Homo sapiens: one gene and its partners. The protein of the gene in region 2 purifies or fractionates together with the protein of the main gene of each other region. This does not show direct contact. Each region holds a gene or a part of one and is shown on either strand. Other genes may lie near its edges. The genes, in order: LPXN, TNS1, SNX21 and EVA1C.

Evidence for each region.
Region 1: the proteins of TNS1 (region 2) and LPXN purify together in Homo sapiens (co-immunoprecipitation; one large-scale study listed by IntAct). This does not show direct contact.
Region 3: the proteins of TNS1 (region 2) and SNX21 purify together in Homo sapiens (co-immunoprecipitation; one large-scale study listed by IntAct). This does not show direct contact.
Region 4: the proteins of TNS1 (region 2) and EVA1C purify together in Homo sapiens (co-immunoprecipitation; one large-scale study listed by IntAct). This does not show direct contact.

The regions. Positions count from the first base shown.
Region 1 is NC_000011.10:58,568,535-58,573,986, forward strand, and holds part of LPXN (leupaxin), read right to left. Parts: intron 2,180-5,452; coding exon 2,022-2,179; intron 1-2,021. UniProt on the Homo sapiens protein: Transcriptional coactivator for androgen receptor (AR) and serum response factor (SRF). Contributes to the regulation of cell adhesion, spreading and cell migration and acts as a negative regulator in integrin-mediated cell adhesion events.
Region 2 is NC_000002.12:217,844,668-217,850,119, forward strand, and holds part of TNS1 (tensin-1), read right to left. Parts: exon of another isoform or gene 5,194-5,452; coding exon of another isoform or gene 5,010-5,193; intron 4,421-5,009; coding exon 2,843-4,420; intron 1-2,842.
Region 3 is NC_000020.11:45,831,372-45,837,554, forward strand, and holds the start of SNX21 (sorting nexin-21), read left to right. Parts: upstream 1-2,427; 5' UTR 2,428-2,548; coding exon 2,549-2,569; intron 2,570-2,829; coding exon 2,830-3,097; intron 3,098-3,587; coding exon 3,588-3,745; intron 3,746-3,806; exon of another isoform or gene 3,807-4,222; coding exon of another isoform or gene 4,223-4,306; exon of another isoform or gene 4,307-4,319; coding exon of another isoform or gene 4,320-4,322; exon of another isoform or gene 4,323-5,964; intron 5,965-6,183. UniProt on the Homo sapiens protein: Binds to membranes enriched in phosphatidylinositol 3-phosphate (PtdIns(P3)) and phosphatidylinositol 4,5-bisphosphate. May be involved in several stages of intracellular trafficking.
Region 4 is NC_000021.9:32,501,863-32,507,314, reverse strand, and holds part of EVA1C (protein eva-1 homolog C isoform 1 precursor), read right to left. Parts: intron 3,390-5,452; coding exon 3,300-3,389; exon of another isoform or gene 3,212-3,299; intron 1-3,211. UniProt on the Homo sapiens protein: Binds heparin.

The DNA of each region.
Region 1 (5,452 bases), on a different chromosome or scaffold from region 2:
AGAGGTGGCAGTGAGCCAAGATTGCACCACTGCACTCCAGCCTGCACGACAGAAAGAGACTCCATCTCAAAAAAAAAAAAAAGAGCACTGTTCACTGAATATGTGTTTCATACGCTGCTAGATGAGACCATGGAAGAAGCTGGAAGGAGGTCTGTTAAGCCATAGTGGCTTACTTAATGCAAATACTGATAAGAAAACTTTAAATAAAATTGAAGATCTGGGGTAAAAAGTAAAGTTAATAGGATGTGAGAAAAACAAGCATAAACCCAGGACTCTTTCAGGTAAACCAGGATATATGGTCACCCCAGAAAGATCAACATGAAACTATGGCTTTTACTCCAAATGAGATGGGAGTCATTTTGGGGTTTTGAGTAGAAGAATGACAGGGTCTGACTTTAGTTTTTAAAGGTGACCCTGGCTGCTTGAGAACAGACTGCAGTGGGGCAAAGGGCAGGAGACCACTTAGGAGCCTACAGCTATAATCTAACACTGAGAACAAAGACAATAGTTCCCTAGTAGAGAGATAAATTCGTATCGTTAAAATTGTGTATGTGTCTGGAGAAAAGAACAGTTAGGGCGTAAACTACCCCTGAGCTCAAATTTCAGGTCTGTGCTTCTGGCTATTTCATACAGGGAACAATGATGAATCAAAATATCATAGTACAAAATTACCAGCTATGAAGAGCATCTACTTAATTCATCTTACACTAATTCCATTCTCATCAAGCAACCTTTTAATTATAATGTACGTCCATATAGACTTATCCATAGGAAGAGAATGCATATATGAGTAAATATAGCTGTTTTACTTGATAGCTTTAACTGTAAATTTGATTTCTGAGTTTTGTTTTTTTTTTGTTTGTTTGTTTTTTGAGACAAGCTCTCATTCTGTCGCCCAGGCTGGGATGGAGTGGCGCAATCATAGCTCACTGCAGCCTCGACCACCTGGGCTTAAGCAATCCTCCTGCTTCAGCCACCTGAGTGGCGGGGACCATAGGCACGCACCACCACACCCTGCTCATTTTTTAATTTTTCGTAGAGATGGGGGTCTCACCATATGGCCCAGGCTGGTCTCAAACTCCTGGCTTCAAGTGATCCCCCCGCCTCAGCCTTCCAAAGTGCTGAAATTACAGGCCTGAGCCACTGCACCTGCCCTAGGTTTTTAAAATATATATATAATCACTTGTCAATTTGGTTAGTTTGAGTTGGTTCCCTAGAGCTTCATCATCTCTATATAAACTAATAATTGAATCTCCTAATCTATTCAGCAGAAAATAAGACCTGGGAAGTAGTGACCCTAAAAAGTCACCCTGAGAAGACTTGTCTATGCTGCCACCTGGCCTTCCTCAGGTGATCTCTGGCCTGAGTACCATTCCAGTCAAACTGCAACAGGCATCTCTGATGCCCCCACAGTAACATCAGAATATCCCCAGTGAATGCAATACTCTGCCTGTGACCATGTGCTCATTAGAAAAAATGTAGTTCTCGGCTGGGCGTGATGGCTCATGCCTGTAATCCCAGCAATTTGGGAGGCCAAGGCGGGTGAATCACCTCAGGTCAGGAGTTTGAGACCAGCCTGGCCAACATGACAAAACCCGTCTCTACTAAAAATACAAAAATTAGCTGGGCATGGTGGTGCGTGCCTGTAATCCTAGCTATTTGGGAGGCTGAAGCAGGAGAATCGCTTGAACCTGGGAGGTGAAGGTTGCAGTGAGCCGAGATTGTGCCACTGCACTCCAGCCTTGGAGACAGAGTGTGACTCTGTCTCAAAAAATAAAAAAAAAATAAAAAAAATAAAAAAAATAAAAAAAATTTAGTTCTCAAAAACTCATTCCTCTGTGATGATTTTCTCAATTCTCTTCCTCTTTCCAAAAACATCTTTAGATTAACATTGAGGCATTATTTTTTCTCTTTCTTGGATATATTATTCTCCTTTCATATTATTTTATGTGGGATTCTGTTAATTTTCAGAAATGCACTCAAACATCCATGTTTAAGGACTATAATAAATGAAAATTTACCGGCAAGGGACTTGTGTTATCCTGAATAGAAAGGATCTCCGAAGTCTCATCAAGGTTAGTCTCCTTTCTGGAATGCTGATCCAGGGGAAGAGGAGCTGGGTTGGAATATTCATCACTGTCCTGAAGGGTGGAGCGTTCCAGTTCCTCCAATAAGGCATCTACACCATAAGAAGCAAGAGAATCATGACAGAGAATATTTAAATCCCTACAGTCATTTTCTCCTTAAATATCTTCACTGTGCCCACATTCATCTCCTTTTCTTCAATTATGGCTATTTTCAAATACTTTCCCTTATTCCTTATTTCACTTCAAGAATGTGGTGAATCCTACCAAGAAATGTTTAACACCTCCATAAATTGTGGTTTGTTTCTTATTTTCTATGGTTGCATTCAATTTCATAGTCTCATGCTATAATTTGATTTTTTATACCACAGGTATTAATTTTCATCATTCATTTAGGGTAGATTCCCCACAAATATCCTTAATTAGAAAAAAATAAAACTGGGCTGGGTATAGTGGCTTATGCCCATAATCTTAGCACTTTGGAAGGCTGAGGCGGGAGGATCCCTTGAGCCTAGGAGTTCCAGACCAGGGCAACATAGCAAAATCCAGTCTGTATGAAAAATACAAAAAAGTCAGCCCAGCATGGTGATGCACACCTGTGGTCCCAGCTACTTGGGAGGCTGAGGTGGGAGGATCACCTGAGCCTAGGTGAGCCTGCGATGAGTCGAGATCACGCCACCACACTCCAGCAGCCTGGGCCAAAGGAGTGATACCCTGTCTCAAAAAATAAATAAATAAATAAATAAATAAATAAATAAATAAATCCTAAATGCTTTTTTCTATCAGAAAAATAGAAGCAATTATATTACCATTTTTCAAAACATACGAGGGAAATAACACTTATTCTTAATCCTAATGATATTTTTTCTTAAATCTTAACAATTATCCTGAGCACGTAACAAAATTTTCAAAGCAAGGTATAAGTATCCTGTCTTTTAGGGTGTGGAGAGAAAAAATGGTTGGGGATAAAACTGAGATATTGCAAAATCAAGTAAGATGTTGCAATTTAAATAGTTGGGATTTGTTACTCTTTCAGTTTTTTTTCTTTTTTTTTTTTTGGAAAAGTATTATATACTAGTATCTATCTGTTACAATGAAATAAATAATAATTAATAAAAATTAACACATGCCAGGCACTGTGCTCAGGAGTTTACACATTTCATTTAATCATCCTAACACTTTGAGGCAGATGATATTATTGTCCTTATTTTGTAGATCACAAGAAAGAGACAAAAATAATTTGCTTAAGCGCATGAATGCAGAACCAGGACTTGAATCTGGGCTATCTGATCCCTAGCCCCTGCATTAACTAAAAGTTAGAAGTTCCAGTCTCCTGTCTTATATATATTCTCTGGGTTACCTTGAGCATGTCACATCCTTCTCTGATGCAGTTTCCTCATCTACATAACAAGGCAATTTGATTAGAACAGTATTTTTCAAATTATGGCTCAATAATGCATTAGTGGATCTCTAGCGGACTTCTTACCACAGATTTTAGCTTTCAAACTTTAAACACATAATTACATTATTTCTAAGGACCTGCCTACATCTAAAGTTCTCAGATAAGGAAAATAAACTTCACAGGTCATTAAAAAAAAAACAGATTTTTCATTTATTTTAGATTTTGGAGGAATGAATATTTCTTAATGGCGTTAGAAGAGATCTAATCCTTTTTTTTTTAACAAATGAAATATACAGATCTTTCATAATCATCCATTTATCAAAAATGTTGACTTTTATGTACCATTTTAGAGATAAGCAAACTGAACTAAACTCTCGGGCAAATGAATAACTGTAATGGGAAAAAAGAGATGAGTGGGACCCTATGGCATTAAAAAGTTGAGAGACTTATAATAAATTTCAGTGTATGAACTTTATTTGGATCATTAAATCTACTGTAAAAATGAAACAATCAAGACTATTGAACACTGACTGGATATTAAATAATATCAAGTAAGTACTGTTTATTTTAGGTGTGATAATGATATTTAATAATATTAATTAATTCTGTTAAGTTTTTAGGTGTGATAATGGTATTTTACAATATTAAGGAATTAATATTAAGGCTGTTGTTATGGCAATGGCATTACAGTTATATGTATAAATATATATTTATTTTAGAGGTCAGTGTTAAAATAGTTACAGATAAAATGACATCTGAAATTGTTTTAACATAATTACAGGGGTGAAAGGAATGGGTGGGCATATATATGAAGTAAGACTGATGAAGAACTGATTGTTTCAACTGGTTGATGGGTATATCAGAATTCATTAAACTATTTTCTCTACTTTTGCATACTTAAATTTCTTTATAATAGAAGTTTTTTAAAAAGAAGGACAAATAGGCCGGGCATGGTGGCTCATGCCTGTAAATCCCAGCACTTTGAGAGGCCGAGGCGGGCGGATCGCCTGAGGTTGGGAGTTCGAGACCAGCCTGACCAACATGGAGAAAACCCGTCTCTACTAAAAACACAAAATTAGCCAGGCATGGCGGCACATGTCTGCAATCCCAGCTACTCAGGAAGGCTGAGGCAGGCGAAACGCTTGAACCTGGGAAGCAGAGGTTGCGGTGAGCCGAGACCGTGCCATTGCACTCCAGCCTGGGCAACAAGAGCAAAACTCCGTCTCAAAAAAAAAAAAAAAGAAAAGAAAAGAAAGAAAAAGAAAAGAAAACTAAGGTAGAAAAAGAAAGAAAACTTTTTGCCTCAGATTTTTATTAGCCAGACCCCACACCAAATTTGAGAATTTTGAATTTTTATTCTACATCTTTCAATTATGCTAGAGCCCCTTTCTTTTCTATTTTCTAAGCTTTGCTCTAACTAGAAGCCAAAGATCCTCCTGAGCTCAAAATAAAAAGCCATTTACAATAAAGATTATAAGAGAGAAGAAACCATACCACAAAGAGTAGGAAGTTGCCCTCAGAAGCACCAGCTAACCAAAGTTATCAAAACCCTTCTTTCTGGGTCATGAGTTATAGGCTTTTCTCTTCCTGTTTCATATGAGTGTGCATATCACCAACACTGTGAGGTTATTATGCCTTTTGCCAGATTTTGTAATTTGAAGATGACTAATTTCAGTATGACAAATATGGGATTCCTGGAGAGTGGGGGCGGGGGAAGTGGGGACTAGACTGAAGACTCCATAATTCTTCTCTGTAGTCTTTTACTGTGGAGATGAAATAATATCAATATTAACATGAAAGGAGTAAAGTGAGGTCTCTTGGGAGTCTCTGAGGGTTGCATGGATTTCATTCGGAGGCAGAATCTGCTCCTGGTTCCTCTTTATCTATCATGCCTAATGCCTACGTAATGAGGGTTTAGGTAAAACCTTCTGGGTGTATACAAGCTGCTAGCCTCTGAGGCACCACT
Region 2 (5,452 bases):
CTCTCTCCTGCAGAGCTTTCTCCTTATCTCTCTTATTACAAAAGACTATTTTAAAGTTCCAGTTCTTTTTTCCCCCTATTAAACTCTAGACTCCTTAAGGATAAGATCCATATCTGATTTCCAACATGTATTGAAATCTCCACCTCTAGAGACATCTGAGATCAGTCCAGCCACAGAATCAGGGACATAAGATAACTCAGTTGGACTCTCCAACTCTGACTCTTATTTCTTTTTCTTGTCTTATTGCACTGGCTAGGACATCCAATACAATGTTAGATGCAAGTGGTGATAACAGACATCCTTATTTTGTCCCTGGCTCTAATAGGAACGCTTCCAATGCTCCACAGGAAAGTGTGATGTATGCTATAAATTTCTGGTCCCTACCCTTTATCAAATTAGAAAACTGCCCCTACCTTCTCCTCTACAACTTAAGCTGGAATAAGGCACAAGGGTGATTGGATCAAAGTGGAATAAACCAGGGACTTGAGACTGAGGTATGGAGGACAGCCAATGGGGAAAAGGCAGACCTGGGGGAGGAAAGCCAGGAGAAACCAGATCAAGTTCATGGCCATGAAGAGGTTCTCCCACAGATCTGAGCTTCCTAGGTTACTCATGTCAAAGTGTATGTTCCAGCTTCTTACGGCAGAGATGTAGACAGAGCAGAAAGAAGTAGTGCTGAAATCTATCTTCCCTGCCTCCCAGACTTTTCCACACATTGATCTTGTCTGTCTGCCTTTATCTACACAGGCACTGCAGATACCCTGAAAGGCTACTAAGGAAGTTACTCATGCAGGACCTGCTGACATAAATTCTGTCATAATGACAGGGCTTGAACCAAAGAGGCAACTTCATAGACCTGGGAGCCAAATATAAGTGTCCCCTCTATACATTTCATCCCTTCTCTTGAGTCACTCCCAGTTGATGGAGGAAATGGCAACAGGGTTAGGGAATGGGAACATTGTGCCAACAGTATCCTTCCCTATCTATGACTTCATGGCAGCCAAAGCCTGAGAGGCTACAGAATATGGAAGTTGACAGTCAAGCCTTCGAAAGCTGGTAGGAGAGAAAGGGCTAAAAGGCAGTCCACTACAAGATGGGCATCCTCCCAGGGCCATTAGGGTTATGGCCTCCTCTTGAGCAAGCTCCAGGAGAGCTGCATGGAAGGGTTCTTGTAGGGGAGGAAATGTATTCTGCTCCCCCAGAGAGAAGGCTCCTGGATCCTGCCCCTCATTAGACTAGCGTGTCACTAATCTTTAGGCCACCACTCCAACCTTGCAAAATATTGGGAGAGGAATTAAATTCCCAGGGAATTCAGAAAGCCCCATCCCTCTCACCTCAAAAAAACCAAGAAGAAAAGGATCTCTGCTGACAAAGCCAGGGGGGTATCTTTATCTCAGGGGCCCAGATGTGGGAGAAGGCAGAAGTCAAAGCCCATATGGACCACCCATGGAGCGTTTCATCCGAGGTTAAGAACTGCCCATCCTTTGTTCCGATGCTCAGGTAAAAGGAATTGTTACTGCTAGGCCAGCTCTCTATGGGAGGTGAGGCTGATTGCCAATTTCCATGGTGTAAATACTCCTGCAATGGCCAATTTCAAGCTATTATACCAATAGTGGAGCTGGGGACTCTGCTCTGCTCTGAAGTATAGGAGCAGGGAGCCTGTGTCCCCACACCAGGTCCTGAGCCAGCTGGCCTGCCCCAAGCTGCTTCCCTAAACCCACGGTCCATCTCCAGGGAGGGTGTTTCCTTCCCTCCCTGCAGCTGGCATGGTGACTCAGCTTCCCCTAAATTTAGGAAAAGGGGTGGAGGACAGAGACAGCTGCCCAGGCTCCTCTCCTCCTCGCTGAGCTCCCACCACCCTGTCAGCTGAGGGGCTGGCACAAGGTCCACCCAAATCCACAGTCTCTGGTCCACCCCTGTCTGGGCTCCACCTCCAGAATAAAGTCACCCAACAGGTTTTCCTGCCAAGTTCAGCCACCCTTGTGGAATGGGCATAGGCTTAGACCAGTGGGAAGGGAACCTCGCAGCTGTCTCTCCCAACATGGCCCCAGACATGCTGTCATTTCTTGCCTTTGTCTCCCCAAAAGCTCTTCTGAGTGTCCCACTTTCCTCTCTCCCAAAAGAGAAGCCCACTCTCTGATAGGAAAAGGAGCTTTGTCTCTCAGCACCTACTTCCCATACAGGGCTGGTCCTCAGCAAAGACTAACAGGAAAACTGACTTAGAAGGGGAACCTTGGCCTCCCCGCCCCAGCAGATAGAGCCTAAGGGCTTGAGGATACCCTCTCGGACTCTTTCATGGCCTCTAGGAGCGGGACCTAAGAGGGAATTTGAGTCTACAAAGGCCTCCCTCCAGCCTTCTCCACGTCTCCCCCAAGGAACTAAAGTCTGAGGACAGACAGCACGACAGGCAATTGCAGAGTCTCCTCTGTGTCTAGAAAGTCTGTACTCCAACCCCAAAGTCACCACCTCCTGGAAGCTTTCCCTGACTGCCCTAGGTGGTAAGCTTTGCTTTCCCAGGCTCTGGGATCTTGGTCCCACCTCTGTCACCGTACACATTACTCTCTAATGAAATCATCTGTCTGTGTATCTGTCCGCTCACTAGACTGTAAATTTCTTGAGGGCAGGAATTGCTTGACATTGAACTTTGAAACTTGGTGTCTGGCTTGGTGCCTATCAGACAATGAATGCAGGAAGGGATAACTGGCTAGCATATAGGCTCCTGAGAGCCTCCTCCCACCAGTGAAAGCAACATCTGCTTAGGGGTCATGGCTGGACCTGCACCTCCCCCCAGCAAGACCAAATAAGGAAGGGGTAGAAGGAGTCAGGACTGAATACCTCTTACCTGCTACCCTGTGGGCCACCAGCCCTTCTAAATTCAATGGCTCCTCCTCTGGAGTCCGGGAGGGGTCTGAAGTCGCTTCCTTTGGTGAGAGCAGAGGCTGAGCAGTGAGGCCAGGGAGAGAGGCTGGGGGTTGCTGAGGCCCTGGAGGGCTGTGGGTGGTCGGAAGGAAGGCAGGCAAGGAGGAAGAGGCTGGGCTCTTTGAATGGAAATCCTGGTTAGGCCCAGCCAAACATGGCTGATAGTCATAAGGTGAGTAAGACCTGCCAGGAGGGACAGACTCCAGAGAGGCCCGTGGGGCTGGCTCAGGGGTTCCCAACGAATGCCCACTGGGGATATAGCCAGATCTGGACTGGGTCAGTGGATGGGACTGACGGGAGGATCCAGAGAGGGGCTGGGAGGAGAGTGGAGAAGCCCCTGGCCAGGCCCCGGGGACACTCTGGGACTTGTGTAGTGGGGCAGCAGCGGAGGCTGGCTCCAGGTCCAGCATCAGCATATTGAGTGTTTCGATGGACTGTTCAATCTCCTGCTGGGAGGCTGCTCGCGGGAACTCAGGGAGACTGGGGATGGGGGTCTCTGCCAATGGCTGAGGGCTGGGCCTGCTGGCTACAAGACTCTCCAAGTGGGCTCTTTCCTGCTGGCGTGGAGGTGGGCGAGGCTGCTGCTGCTGCTGCTGCTGCTGCTGCCACGAATTCAGTCCCCTTTGCACAGCCTCCCGGCTGCTTCCCCCTCGGACCGGAGCTGGGGGCAGCTGGGGTTCAGCTTCCGAAAAGGATTGAGAGCGGAACATACCGCTGGGGTCATGGGCATAGTGGGAGGTGGTCACTGGCTGTGGCCAGGCTGGGTGGGGCCCCTCCCTCTGGTAGCCAGCTAAACCCTCCTGTGCAGAGTAGGAGGGCCGCATGGGGGCCGTGTGGCCAGCATGGGCAGGCCCCGCCCGGCTGGCAGACTCGTAGGGGTAGCCTCCTCCATTGACCATAGGCTCCATGGGGTAGGACTTGTCCAGACCGTTGGTCAGTGGGGACAGGGCCTCTGGGTAGCCCCCCTCACTGGTGTTGGTGACCCCGTCCAGAGAAGAGAGTGTGCCCATGCTGCCCGCACTGTGACCATCCTGGTTTGGCAATTCATCGTCCAGGATGTCTGTCTCCCGCTCAGATGCTAACGCCCCACCATTGACATGAACCTGGGCTGGGACAACGTGGCGTCCAGAGGAGGGCACAGCCGAGCCCCCTGCTGGGCGGGACCTGAGGTGCTGGGTGTGGTACATGGCGCCTTGCTTCTCTCGCTCTAAGCCAAAGCCACTCAGCAGGCGGTCCAGCTCCCGCTTCTCCTGGGGACTCAAGGCAGCAGTGGCACTGGAGGCCCCGGGGACAGGCTCGTCGGTCTTGTCGGTCTTGGTGGAGGCTGTGGAGTTGCCCGAGTCGCTGCTCACAGAAAGCGTGTGTTCCACGTGGTTGGGGGTGGCCGACAGTGTAGGACGTGTGGCATTAACAGCCCCGGTGCTGCCGTGCAGGGAGTCTTTCTTCTTCACCTTAGCATACAGGCTCCCATCTAGTGGCCCCTGCGTGTGTCCCACCACCTCTGCAAGGGACAGAGCCGGAGGGGAGACAACAGACAACAGACATTAGCGGGAGGCAGGGGTATCATCCACTCTGCCAGAGAAAGAAGCTAAGAGCTCCCATGCCCTGCATCCTAAAACCTCCTCTCACCACCCTGAGGTGGGGAAAAGGGGAGCTGACAGAAAGACCTCTACCCCAGGCTTTGGGGCAGAGCCTCACCAACACTCAGCTTCAGGGCCGGGCAGTGGAGCCCAACACTGAGCAGGAAGTGCTGGGGGCAAATCGCTCCAGTCCCAAGCCTAGCTCTGGCATTTCACCAGCTTCCTGACCAGAGGCATGAATAACTCTCTGAGCCAGCCTCCTGGTCCATAAAATGGGGATAATAATAGAATCTGGTTGAACCATCTGAAATTGCCAATATTCATTAAATACACTGTGCTTTGAGTTTAAATGAGTTGACACATGACATGCTGAGACCAGTTCCTGGCACGTGATGGGAGTTCAACAGCTGGGAGCCCTAACCATCACCATTATGAGTATCATTAATTCCTGAATGACCATTTCCAAAGCATCCTCAGTCCCCTCCGCCACCCCATCTCAAAAAGTCTCACCCCTGCTTCGATGTCTGGAGTTCCCACTCTGGATTAGAGGCAGAATGCCAGGAGAGTAGCCATTGCCTTGAATGCCCATAGAGGTATCAGCATGGACGGCCAGTCGCCCCGAGGATAGCCTTTGCCCACGGAAGCAGGGGGAGAACCCAGGAGGGCAGTAGGGTGCAGCAAAGGGCCCCACCATGCCCAAGGTGGTGGTGGCAGGGAGGCTGAAGGCAGAGCTGGGACTCTCTAAGACAAGCTTGCCCTCAGCTAGATTTGTCTCCAGCTCAATGCAAAGGATGTGATAGAACCATTCAGAGATACAATGTCATTCATGCTGCCCACTGCCACATTTCCAGAGGCTCCTCCCAGCTCCTCCCCAGCACTGCCCACTCCTGATGGACCCCTACCCCTCCACCAGCAAGCTCAGCCCATACCACTCAAGACTCCAGGAAAGGGAC
Region 3 (6,183 bases), on a different chromosome or scaffold from region 2:
TTCGAGACCAGCCTGGCCAACATGGTGAAACCCCATCTCTACTAAAAATACAAAAATTAGCCGGGTGTGGTGGCACATGCCTGTAATTCCAGCTACTTGGGATTACTTGTAATTCCAGCTACTTGGGATTACTTGAGGCAGGAAAATCGCTTGAACCCAGGAGATGGAGGTTGTAGTGAGCCAAGAGTGTGCCATTGGACTCCAGCCTGGGTGATGGAGTAAGACTCTGTCTCAAAAAAAATAAAATAAATAAAAATAAATAAAAAAGGAAGAAGAAGCAGGAGGAGGAAGAAGGAAGCAAAAAGAAGAAGAAATAATAATAGTGGAGAATGCGCAACCTTCAGATCTCCTAGTTCTGACTGTTTATATGACCCAGCATAAGCCCTTCCCCTCACTAAGCCTCAGACTACCTATCTGTAAAATGGAGGTGATAGGCCAGATTTCTGAGGGGCCCTCCTGCTCTAACAACCCATGGTTTCATGAAGACCAGCTTTGTGCCCAGACATGTAAGGCATATACCGAAGGACAAGTTATTTTTTAACCAATGGTTGGTGAATGAGTGAGTGTTGAATTAATGAATGAAGTATGCCTTTTTTGTCCCAATATCTTGCCCATAAGCCAAATGAAGAGTAATTCGAGGTTTGAAATTGTGCAAACTGGCCAGGCACAGTGGCTCACGCCTGTAATCCCAGCACTTTGGGAGGTAGAGGCAGGTGGATCACTTGAGGCCAGGTGTTCCAGATCAGCCTGGCCAATATGGTGAAACCCCACCTCTACTAAAAATACAAAAATTAGCCGCATGGTGGCACATGCCTGTAGTCCCAGCCACTCAGGAGGCTGAGGCAGGAGAATTGCTTGAACCTGGGAGGCAGAGGTTACAGTGAGCCAAGATTGCATCACTGTACTCCAGCCTGGGCGACAGAGCAAGACTCTGTCTCCCTCTCTAAAAATAAATAAATAAATAAATAAAATTGCACAAACTTAGGCTTAAAATCCCAGCCCCTCTATTTCCCAGATGTGGATCTTGGGGAAGTCACTTTGCCTCAGTTTCTTCATCTTGAAAATGGACCATTAATGTCCAGTTACAGCCTCTTCCCCAGGACGCTGTGAGGGAGAGATGTGACAGTAAAGTGCCTAGAGCAGGATGTAGAAAGTGGACCCTCAGAAAATAAGAACCCCAGCCTTTCTGCTCACATGGGAGGGCAGGGAGCTGAAATACCTTCTGCTTATCCCAAGGCATTTTCCCCCACCCTTCTCTCCTGTGCCACTCAGAAAGGGTAGGAGCTACTTTGGAGAGATTTTGATTTTATTTATTGTATTGTATAACTATCAAAATCTGCCCTAACAACTGATACCTAGGCTTTGTGACAGGAAGCCACAATAACTTTTTCTTGACCTGCAGCTGCCCTGCGGATAAAAGATAAAACAAAGCTGGGGAGCCACTGAGATTATCAGGCCTGCTGCACAGGAAAAGGGCAGTATGCAGCAGGGGACCTGGGCTCCAGGCCCCATACTCAGAAACCTCTGAGGGAGGCAGAGGCAGGTGGATCACTTGAGCCCAGGAATTCGAGACCAGCCTGGGCAACATGGCCAAATCCCATCTCTACAAAAAATACAAAAATTAGCTGGGTGTGGTGGCGAACGCCTCTATTCCTAGCTACTGGGGAGGCTGAGGTGGGAGGGATGACCTGAGCCCAGGGAGGCGGAGGTTGCAGTAAGCAGAGATGGTGCCACTGCACTCCAGCCTAGGTGACAGAGTGAGACTCCATCTCAAAAGAGAAAGAAAGAAAGAAAGAGAGAGAGAGAAAGAAAGAAAGAGAGAGAGAGAAAGAAAGAAAGAAACCTCTGGCAAGCTGTGTGGTTAAGCCAAGTAACTCACCCTCTCTGGTCCTCAGTTTCCCTGTTTGCCTACTTCCCATGTGTGAGGTTCAAATCAGATTGTGCAAGCCTGTGAACACTGTAGAAACAATAATCATTATGTAAGTGATCATTTCGTCAGCCTTTGCTCTATGCCAGGCACGGGACGAGCGTTCTTACAAGAGCTGCAAAATTAGTTTTAGCAGTATTGTTCCTGTTTTACATATGAGAAAACCTAGGCTCAGCGAGGTCAGATTCCAACCAACCCAAATCACGCATCTTCTCCTGGCCCTTCGTTTTCTCTCGGGAGACATGGCCTCCCTACTATTGCATAATTACTTTGTGAAGTTAAAGAGCGTTGGGTGGAAATGAGTGGGACAGATTGGAGATGACGTGGGTGGGGTGGGAGGATTCAAGGAGGGTACGCGCCTGGCCGGACTGGGATGACTCTGCGGCAGGCCTGGGACTCCCTCAGGCCGACCCAGGCTTCCCAAGTCCCTCCTGGAGCCAAGGGCCCGGGATTCTCGGGCGGCTCGGGCGAGCGGGCGGGGCAGGAGGCGGGGCGGCGGCAGGAAGCTGCCCGAGCGGCGCTCTGAGCGGCCTGAGCCCGGCGGAGCCCTGCAGAACCCGGCCGACCTCCATGGGCTGCGGGGGGCTGCACCCGGACCCCTGGGGCGCGGCGCGCCCCTGAATGCACCGTGGGACGCAGGAGGTAGAGGCGCACGAGGCGGCGCAAGAGACATCGGGAGGGTCCTGAGCCCCTCCGGGGAGGAACGCGGTCCTAGGCTGAGTGGGTTGGGGGGAAAGCGATGCTGGCTGGGTCCCCTGGTTCGCAAGACCTCGGACTGCCAGGGGGTGGGGCCTCACCGCGCCCCTCCCTCTCCGGTTCGGGCCCCGCCCCTCCTCCTCCTGCGCCGGGCTGGGGTACCCCTCCTCCGGGATCCGGTACACAGCGTCGCGCGCTCCCCCCAGGGTGCCATGGCCTCCCGGCTCCTGCACCGGCTGCGGCACGCCTTGGCCGGCGACGGCCCCGGGGAGGCGGCGGCCAGTCCAGAGGCCGAGCAGTTTCCGGAGAGCTCAGAGCTGGAGGACGACGACGCCGAGGGCCTGTCCTCCCGACTCAGCGGCACCCTCAGCTTCACCAGCGCCGAGGACGACGAGGACGACGAGGACGAGGACGACGAGGAGGCTGGCCCTGACCAGCTGCCCCTCGGGGATGGGACGTCAGGAGAAGACGCAGGCGAGTGCAGGAGGACGGAGGCGGGAACCCTGGGGCTCGATTAGGCCTCCATCCCAGCCGCGTTCCCAGAGCATCCAGGGCGCTAAGTTGATCCAGCTGAAACTCCCACACTTCTTAAAGCGCCTGGGCCACCTCTTGGCTGTGTGACCTTGAGAGAGTCTTAACCCCCCTCTGAGCCAAGTTTTCCCTTGTGTCAAGTGGGAGAACTCACTCTCATCTCAGAATTGCTGCAGGCATTAAATGTACAGGGCTTGGGATCCGAATGGAAATGATGTATTAACGATATTTTGAGGGTGGAGCTATTAATTTAGCCCCTACTGTCTGCCAGGCACGGTGTTTGGCTCCTCGGTGCCTCTCTGTCCCTCAGTTTCCATTTCTGTAAAAAGGGGGTAAGTCCTGCCTCACACTGGGAGGATGAGTGAGGCCACGTCAGTGGTTGATGTCGACCCTGGCCCTAGGCCCATTGATATGACTGGTCATGTGTCTGCAGAACGGAGCCCCCCACCTGATGGGCAGTGGGGCAGTCAGCTCCTGGCGCGGCAGCTGCAGGATTTCTGGAAGAAGTCCCGGAACACCTTGGCACCCCAGCGGCTGCTCTTCGAAGTGACCAGCGCTAACGTTGTCAAGGACCCGCCCTCCAAGTACGTGGTGAGTGAGGGTCTAGAACCCCTGGGCTGTGAGTCCAGAAGTATGGCTAGGAGCAAGTAGGGAAGACCCCAACTTCCTGAGGGGTCTATGTAGTTATAAATGGTTACCTTGTTTACAAATGGGGAAACTGAGGTCAGAAAGGGGATGTAACTTGAGCAAATCCTCACACAAGACTTAGTTTCCTTGAGACTGACTGAAGTGGGGATTAAGGACCTTCCTCTTAACCTGGTTTTGAGACTAAGAGAACTGGTGTGTGCACTTCCCCACCCAGCCCACAAGGTTTTTGCAAATTGTAGCAAGATGTGAGATACAGAGAGACAGATGTTATCTGGGTCAAACTTGAGATCCAAGTTGCATGGGCTGGTAGTTAAGGAAATAGGCTTTCGATCCAGACCAATCTTGACTCCCACTTATTTCCAGTTGTTTGACTCTGGGTGAGTTGTTTAACCTTGGTCATCTTCCGTTTCCTCATTATAGCAATGGGGAAAATGCAGAAGATTACAGCAGGAGTTAAATGAGACAATGGACAAAAAGCCCTTAGCAGTGTGCCTGGCATTATGACGTGGTCAATGAAATGGTAGCTATGTCATCATTATTTAACTTTGGGTTGAAAATGTTTGTCATCTAGGGCCTGCTGTGTCCTTATAACGCACAGGTCAATCAGTTCTCAAGCACCCGACCTTGTCCCTAAGGGCTAGACTTAGAGGGTTGGTGGAGGTTAGGATGAAGAGCAATGTTGGGGAGGACCTTGGAGTCCCTTGCTGTTTTCCTTGCTGTTGAGAGACTGACTTGGAGAATGAGGTCTGCTCCTTTAATGCCCACAGCGACTCCTGCTCCAGTCCCTTTTCAGGCCAGGCCTGAAAGCCAGCTGAGCTGGCCACTCCTGTCAGTGGCAGCTCTCCATCTCTCACTCCCCTCCTCTTCACCACCCTTCTCCACCTCTGACTCAGCAGGAGGGGGCCTGGAGCCCAGTCCCACATCTGGGCCTCTCCACCCTTTTCTGTTGCTGTTAGTAAGCAAGGGCCACACCCATGGGGTGACTACTCCAATTTCAGCAGGGACCGACTCCGATTATTGAGTCTTTTAAAAAAATTTTTGAGGCCGGGCGTGGTGGCTCACGCCTGTAATCCCAGCACTTTGGGAAGCCGAGGCGGGCGGATCACGAGGTCACGAGACCATCCTGGATAACACGGTGAAACCCCGTCTCTACTAAAAATACAAAAAAATAGCCGGGCATGGTGGCAGGCGCCTGTAGTCCCAGTTACTTGGGAGGCTGAGGCAGGAGAATGGCGTGAACCCAGGAGGCAGAGTTTGCAGTGAGCCGAGATCGAGCCACTGCAGTCCGGCCTGGGCAACAGAGCGAGACTCCGTCTCAAAAAAAAAAAAAAAAAAAAAAAAAAATTTTGAGACAGGGTCTCGTTCTGTCACTCAGGCTGGAGTGCAGTGGTGCAGTCATAACTCACTACAACCTCCAACTGGGCTCAAGCTATCCTCCCACCTCAGCCTCCCAAGTAGCTAGGACTACAGCTGTGCACCACCACGTGTGGCCAATGATGAAGTCTGAAGTGGCAAAGGTCTCAGAACTCTGGGTTCATACACTGGAAGGGGACACCAAGGAATAGTTCAGAGGCTGAGAGGAATGGGGGTGACTGTGGGTACCTGGATGGGAAGGGATGACAAGATAGAGCAGGATGGCCAAGTATGCCCCGGCCTGTGTCTGGAGAAGCAAGGCACCTCCTGTGTACAATGGGGACCCTAATTCCCCACTCAACTTGTGGGGGTGAAGAGCACAGGCTTTGGAATCAGATCAACCTGAGTTTAAATCCCAGCTGGGCTGTTTTCCAGCTGTGTGACTTACGGCAAGTCTTTGAGCCCTTTTCCCCCTCTTTGAGCCTGCTTCCTCAGCTGTCAGAGATAAGGACCTTCCTTGCAGTGCTGTTGTGATGATTAAATGAAATCACAGATGTAAAGAGTGCTTGGTACAACAGGAGGCACAGGGTAAATGCTTGGGTAATGGAACTACTGTCATTATCACCCATCTGGCTGCATGTTACAAGGTCAATGAGATAATGGATACAAAATGTAAACTAGATGAACATAAAGGCTTATTATATAGACCAGTGTGTCCTGAAGAAAACTGGTGTCCTAAAGTGTGTCCTGCAGAAAACTAGTTCCCTGGAATGTTAATAGCTGTTTCTAAATAAAGGTTTTGCAGGCAATATGTTTTGAGAATGCAGAGTTAAATGAGAATACAATAAGTTTCTTTATTGTTAAAGTATTTAATCCCTAATAGTGATATACACTGTGAATCTTCAAGAGGACAGAGTAAGCAAACCTAACTGACCAGGAGTGGCTAGAGTATTGTCAGTTCCACAGAACAAATGTGAGAGAAAGATCTGGATTTGGTGTTAGGGTGCCTTTAACATCTAACACTGGTT
Region 4 (5,452 bases), on a different chromosome or scaffold from region 2:
TATGAGCTTCCTTAGAGTCATGATCTTGATTCTAGAATGAATTCGGGGAGTAAGTCTGTATTATTGAAATGACAGTAAATTCAAACATACCTAAGAAGCTTTTTCAATGTTGGGGAAACCATCTCACAGATCATTCAGATGACCCCAGGAGATGCTTCACCAGGGACCCTTGGACATCCTCCTGTCCCTTCTGCCAACCTCTGTGCTTTAATATCAGGGGACAAACCTCTCGATTTTGGTTTCTCTTCTCCTTGTCCCCATGTACACTGGACTGCACTACTGTGTCAAAGCTACTTGCAGCCTGACCTGGGAAATGTACTTTTGGATTCACTCCATTTGCCGCCTATTTGGGTGGTTTGGGCTGGAAACTGCCCTGCTCACACTCTTGGCTCCCAGCTGCTCCTGCTTTGGGGGTGCCTAGAGACCCCAGCTCATCCCGTGGGTCACATCCCCACAGTGGGGCCGGGGATGCGACTGAGAGTTGTCTGGGCACCTCTCTCCAGCAGCAGTGAGGATGGAGCTCAGCACTGTGTGACATTGGCTGGTGGCCACTGCCTGTTTGGGTCGAAATGACCCAGCCTGATGTCCACATGCACCTCTGTGGCACACTGGCCTGCAGACCCCTGAGCATGCACTGCATGCTTCCCACCTCTAGAGTGGCCACCCAGACAGCGACATAGACACACCAAGAAAACCCACAGGCAAGCCCAGAGGCACCTGTTCTACTAGGGCTTTGTGAGCCTCTGTGATTTGAGTCACGAGCTTCTTGTGGTGATTTCATTTAGCTAACATCCAACACAGTGCATTTAGAGACTCTTTCTCTTGGACATTATATGGAGGCGTGGTCATGGTTTGCTAAGATAAATGTCACCAAACACCCCTCAATAAAATCAAATAACAGCTCATCAAGTCCTTACATTTTAAAAAAATGGACATCTTATAAATAGCAAATATTGGATGACAATAAAGCACAGGAAAAAGCTCATAAGCCCATATCAGCAGTCATCATTCAGTTGTTCCTTAACTACTGACTGTGCACCTGTTCTGTACCAGCACCGCATCCTAGATACAGGGATACCACACAAAATAAGATGACAAGGCACCTGACCCTGTGGAGCTGAGCCACTAGCAGGAGAGATAGTCACTAAACGAATATCTCTATCCTGTGGTTTCTGGGAATGACAATCACATAAAAGGATAGAAAGAGATGGAGGAAAGCTAATTTAGACAACTCAGGATCAGAGTGGGGAGGTGGTTGCATCCCTCAAAATTCAGAGTAGCTGGAGTGCAAGCCTTGTATTAGCTGAGCCTGAATCCTGGCCCTGCCGCTGTCCATGGTGTCCTCAGGCAAATGGCTCAACTCCTCTGACCACCGGCTTCAAGTGCAGAACAGGGGATCAGAGTCCCATCTCTCAGGGTTGTTGCTATGGACTGAATTGTGTTGCCCCCAGTTCACTCATTAGGAGCTAATTAAGGTTAAAGGAGGCCATAAGGGGGGAATCCTAATCTGATAGAATTGGTGGTTTTATAAAAAGAAGAGATGTCTCTGTCTCTGTCTCTCCCCCTCTCTGCCATGTGAGGACAAGCAAGAAGGCTGCTGTCCACAACCCAGGAAGAGAGCCCTTACCGGAAAGTGATTGGTGGATACTTTGATCATGAAATTCTGGCCTCCAGAACGGTGAGAAAATCAATGTCTGTTATTTAGGCCATCTGGTCTCGGGTACTTTGTTATGGCAGCTGGGCTGGCTAAGGCAGTTGTTGAGAGGAACGGACAAGGTAGTTGGGGTAAAGCACACAGCAAGGCCACAGCTCACTGAGCGCAATGTCGGTCTCGTTCCCCTTCAATCGTTATTCTCTGTCTGGAGGATTTTCATGATGGCTTTTCTCCAAGAAGCTCCCCAAGGACTTTGTAAATATGGGGATATTTCTGACAGTAAAAATCCTTACAGTTCTTAACATTGACAATGATCAGGAACAGCAAGACATGAAAATGAGAAGGTGGCTAGAAAAGAGAGGACCCACAGAAGAAACCATCAACCACACAACACACACACAGGAGGAATCCTGACGCAGGAGGACAATAGAACAGCAGGGGACCCCAAGACTGAACTTTGCATCTCATGTATTGAGATCATTCCCCAATATGGTTTGGCTGTGTCCCCACCCAAATCTCATCTTGAATTATAGCCCCCATAATCCACATGTGTCATGGGAGGGACATGGTGGGAGGTAATTGAATCATGGGGTGGGTCTTTCCCATGCTGTTCTGGTGATAGTGAATAAGTCTCACGAGATCTGATGGTTTTATAAAGGGGAGTTCCCCTGCACAAGCTCTCTTGCCTGCTACCAAGTAAGACGTGACTTTGCTCCTCATTCACCTTCCACCGAGATTGTTAGGCCTCCCTAACCATGTGGAACTGTGAGTCCATTAAACCTCTTTCCTTTATAAATTACCCAGCCTCAGGTATGTCTTTATTAATAGCATGAGAACAGACAAATACATTCCCTAAGCCTCTATTTTCCTCTGAGACAGGCTTACCCCAAATAGCCCATCTTTGCAGGCCTTGAATAGCAATACTGTTATGTATTATATTAACATGTATTTTACTGAAGGTCTCTGGTTTTTGTCTCTCTGAACATAGGCAGGCATTGCTGAAACTTGCAGATGGCATTCCAAAATGTGTTCTATCTTAAGATAAGCAGAGAGGGTGGTGAGGAAAAATTGTACATACCTTCCCCTCAATGAAGAGGTCCCCGCGGTGTGGCCGGCCTTGGTATAAGCCTTCTGGCTCTGCTAATTCATGAGGGCTGAGTCTGATTGATCCTCATGGGGAAGACTAACAAGGGAATCCTTGACAACTATTAGGAATAACACTCATGACCCAGAAAGTGGCTCTGTCTTCATGGGGCATGATCTGTCTTGTTTACTAAGTGACCTTCTGGCTCATTTTTCTTCCAGTCAGGGCTGGAATTCAATAATCCTAGTTCCTTCCCGAATTTTAGAGCTGGGAAATGCATTCCTCGGGTTTCTACTTTTCAAAAGCGAAAAATATCTGTGGAGCTCAACTCCTAAATAGTGTGACTTTGTCTGTTTATGTGGTTCTCTTGCTGACTGCCTGGTTACAACTGTGCCTGAACTCAGGCCTCTGTGTTTCTGAATCTTAGAAGTGGTGGTTGGCATGTTAAACTTGAAGTCATCGTCCTTTAGTTATCTGAGTGCTATAATTGAACAGCACATTTATTAACAAGACTTTAGTAAATCCATCAGCATTCTAGGAAGCTTTGATTCATTGACCTACCTCTAATGTAAGCAAAGGCTGCCAGAGAGTTGCTAACAAGAATTCCATCTTTCCTCAGAACCTTCGATCCGCTTGGGTCGAAGTTTATACCTGTTTCATGAAAAATGCAAGACCAATTAATCACAGCTGTTCATAGTACGCCTATTCTAAGACACCCCTGCTGCTCCTACCCCAGGGACCGCCGGAATAATTAAAAGTCACAGAAATCAAACAAATGGGCCTCTGGCTAAATTACAGAAGATTAACCCAGGAAGAGCACTTATTAAATAGTAAGCAGTCCCCGACAATATTAAAGTACAAAAAGGATTAGAAATTGTTTTAAGTGTTGGTTCCAACTTCAGGTGCTGGTCTTCCACTCCACTGTGGAAGGGAATAAGTGGATTTTCCCATCCTAAAGACAGTGACATTCATCACACCCCTCAGAGGCTTAATAATATCTCGCTTTATTTTATTTATTTATTTATTTTTGAGATGGAGTTTCACTCTTGTTGCCCAGGCTGGAGTGCAATGGCACAATCTTGGCTCACTGCAACCATCTACCTCCTGGTTTCAAGCAATTCTCCTGCCTCAGCCTCCTGAGTAGCTGGGATTACAGGCACGTGCCACCATGCCCAGCAAATTTTTGTATTTTTATTAGAGATGGGGCTTCACCATGTTGGCCAGGTTGGTCTCGAACTCCTTACCTCAGGTGATCTGCCCGCCTCGGCCTCCCAAAGTGTTGGGATAACAGGCGTGAGCCACTGCTCCCGGCCAATAATATTTCACTTTAAGCATGGATTTGATGTCTGCTGTGTGGCCAGAGATAAAACAAGCCTCCATTACAGAGGGAGGTTGTATTGGGCTACTTTTTTTGGAAACAACAGCAAAATGTGGGGCAAATCTGCTTTTAAATCCTGGTTACACTGCTGGATGGAGCTTAGCAAGTCTGTGATGGGGTAACCTGATGGCTTGGGGGACTCCTAGCCATGTCAGACAGGACAGATGCCTTTGAGGAGAGACGGCACAGGGTTGGCTCTCAGGCCCCCACTGCAGGGGGACCAGGCTGTTTATGGATCGGGTGGGAACCCTGTTAGAAAAATAAGTGGAAGCTGGGTGCGGTGTCTTACGCCTGTAATCCCAGCACCTTGGGAGGATGAGGTGGGTGGATCGCTTGAGCCCAGGAGTTTGAGACCAGCCAGGGCAACATGGCAAAGCCCTGTCTTTACAAACATAATAATAATAGTTAATTAATTAGTTAAAAGAAAGAGAAGAGGAGCTAAGGAACACAGAGCCTGCCAGAAAGCCAAGGTGGCCAGCTAGAAGGACACAGAAGAACATTACCAATAGTTTTCTTTGAGCTTTTGGAGTAGGGGTGCTTTCATATGGTTTTCATATCAAACATACTTTACTTTTATACTTAGGGGGGAAAGACCTAATACATATAATAAAGGTAACACAAGACAAAACTCTCACCACAGCCTAACATCTTAGATGCTCTACGGGGTCTCTGCAGTTTCTATTAGGGACCCCATGGGTTTGAATTCCATTCTAGATTTGATAAGAAAATCCAAATGCTCAACCCCCTCAACTCCCTACCCCTCCACCCCATTTACAAAAGCCAAGTGAAAACTAAGGAGGGGCCGGGTGCGGTGGTTCACACCTGTAATCCCAGCACTTTGGGAGGCCGAGACGAGGAGAACACCTGAGGTCAGGAGTTCAAGACCAGCCTGACTAACATGGTGAAACCCCGTCTCTACTAAAAACACAAAAATTAGCCAGGTGTGGTGGTGGACGCCTGTAATCCCTGCTACTTGGGAGGCTGAGGCAGGAGAATCGCTTGAACCCGGAGGCAGAGGTTGCAGTGAGTGGAGATTGCGCCATTGCACTCCAGCCTGGGCGACAAGAGCGAAACTCCAAAGAAAAAGAAGAAAAAGTAAGGAAAGAAAGAAAGAGAGAAAGAAAGACAGAAGAAAGAAAGAAAGAAGAAAGAAAGAAAGAAAGAAAGAAAGAAAGAAAGAAAGAAAGAAAGAAAGAAAGAAAGAAAGAAAGAAAAGAGCGAGAGAGAGAGAGGGAGGGAGAGAGGAAGGAAGGGAGGGAGGAAGGAAGGAAGGGAGGAAGGAAACTAAAGAGGAAGGTGGTGTGTACAGAGGTACAGAGGCCCTCAGGTCCTAGTT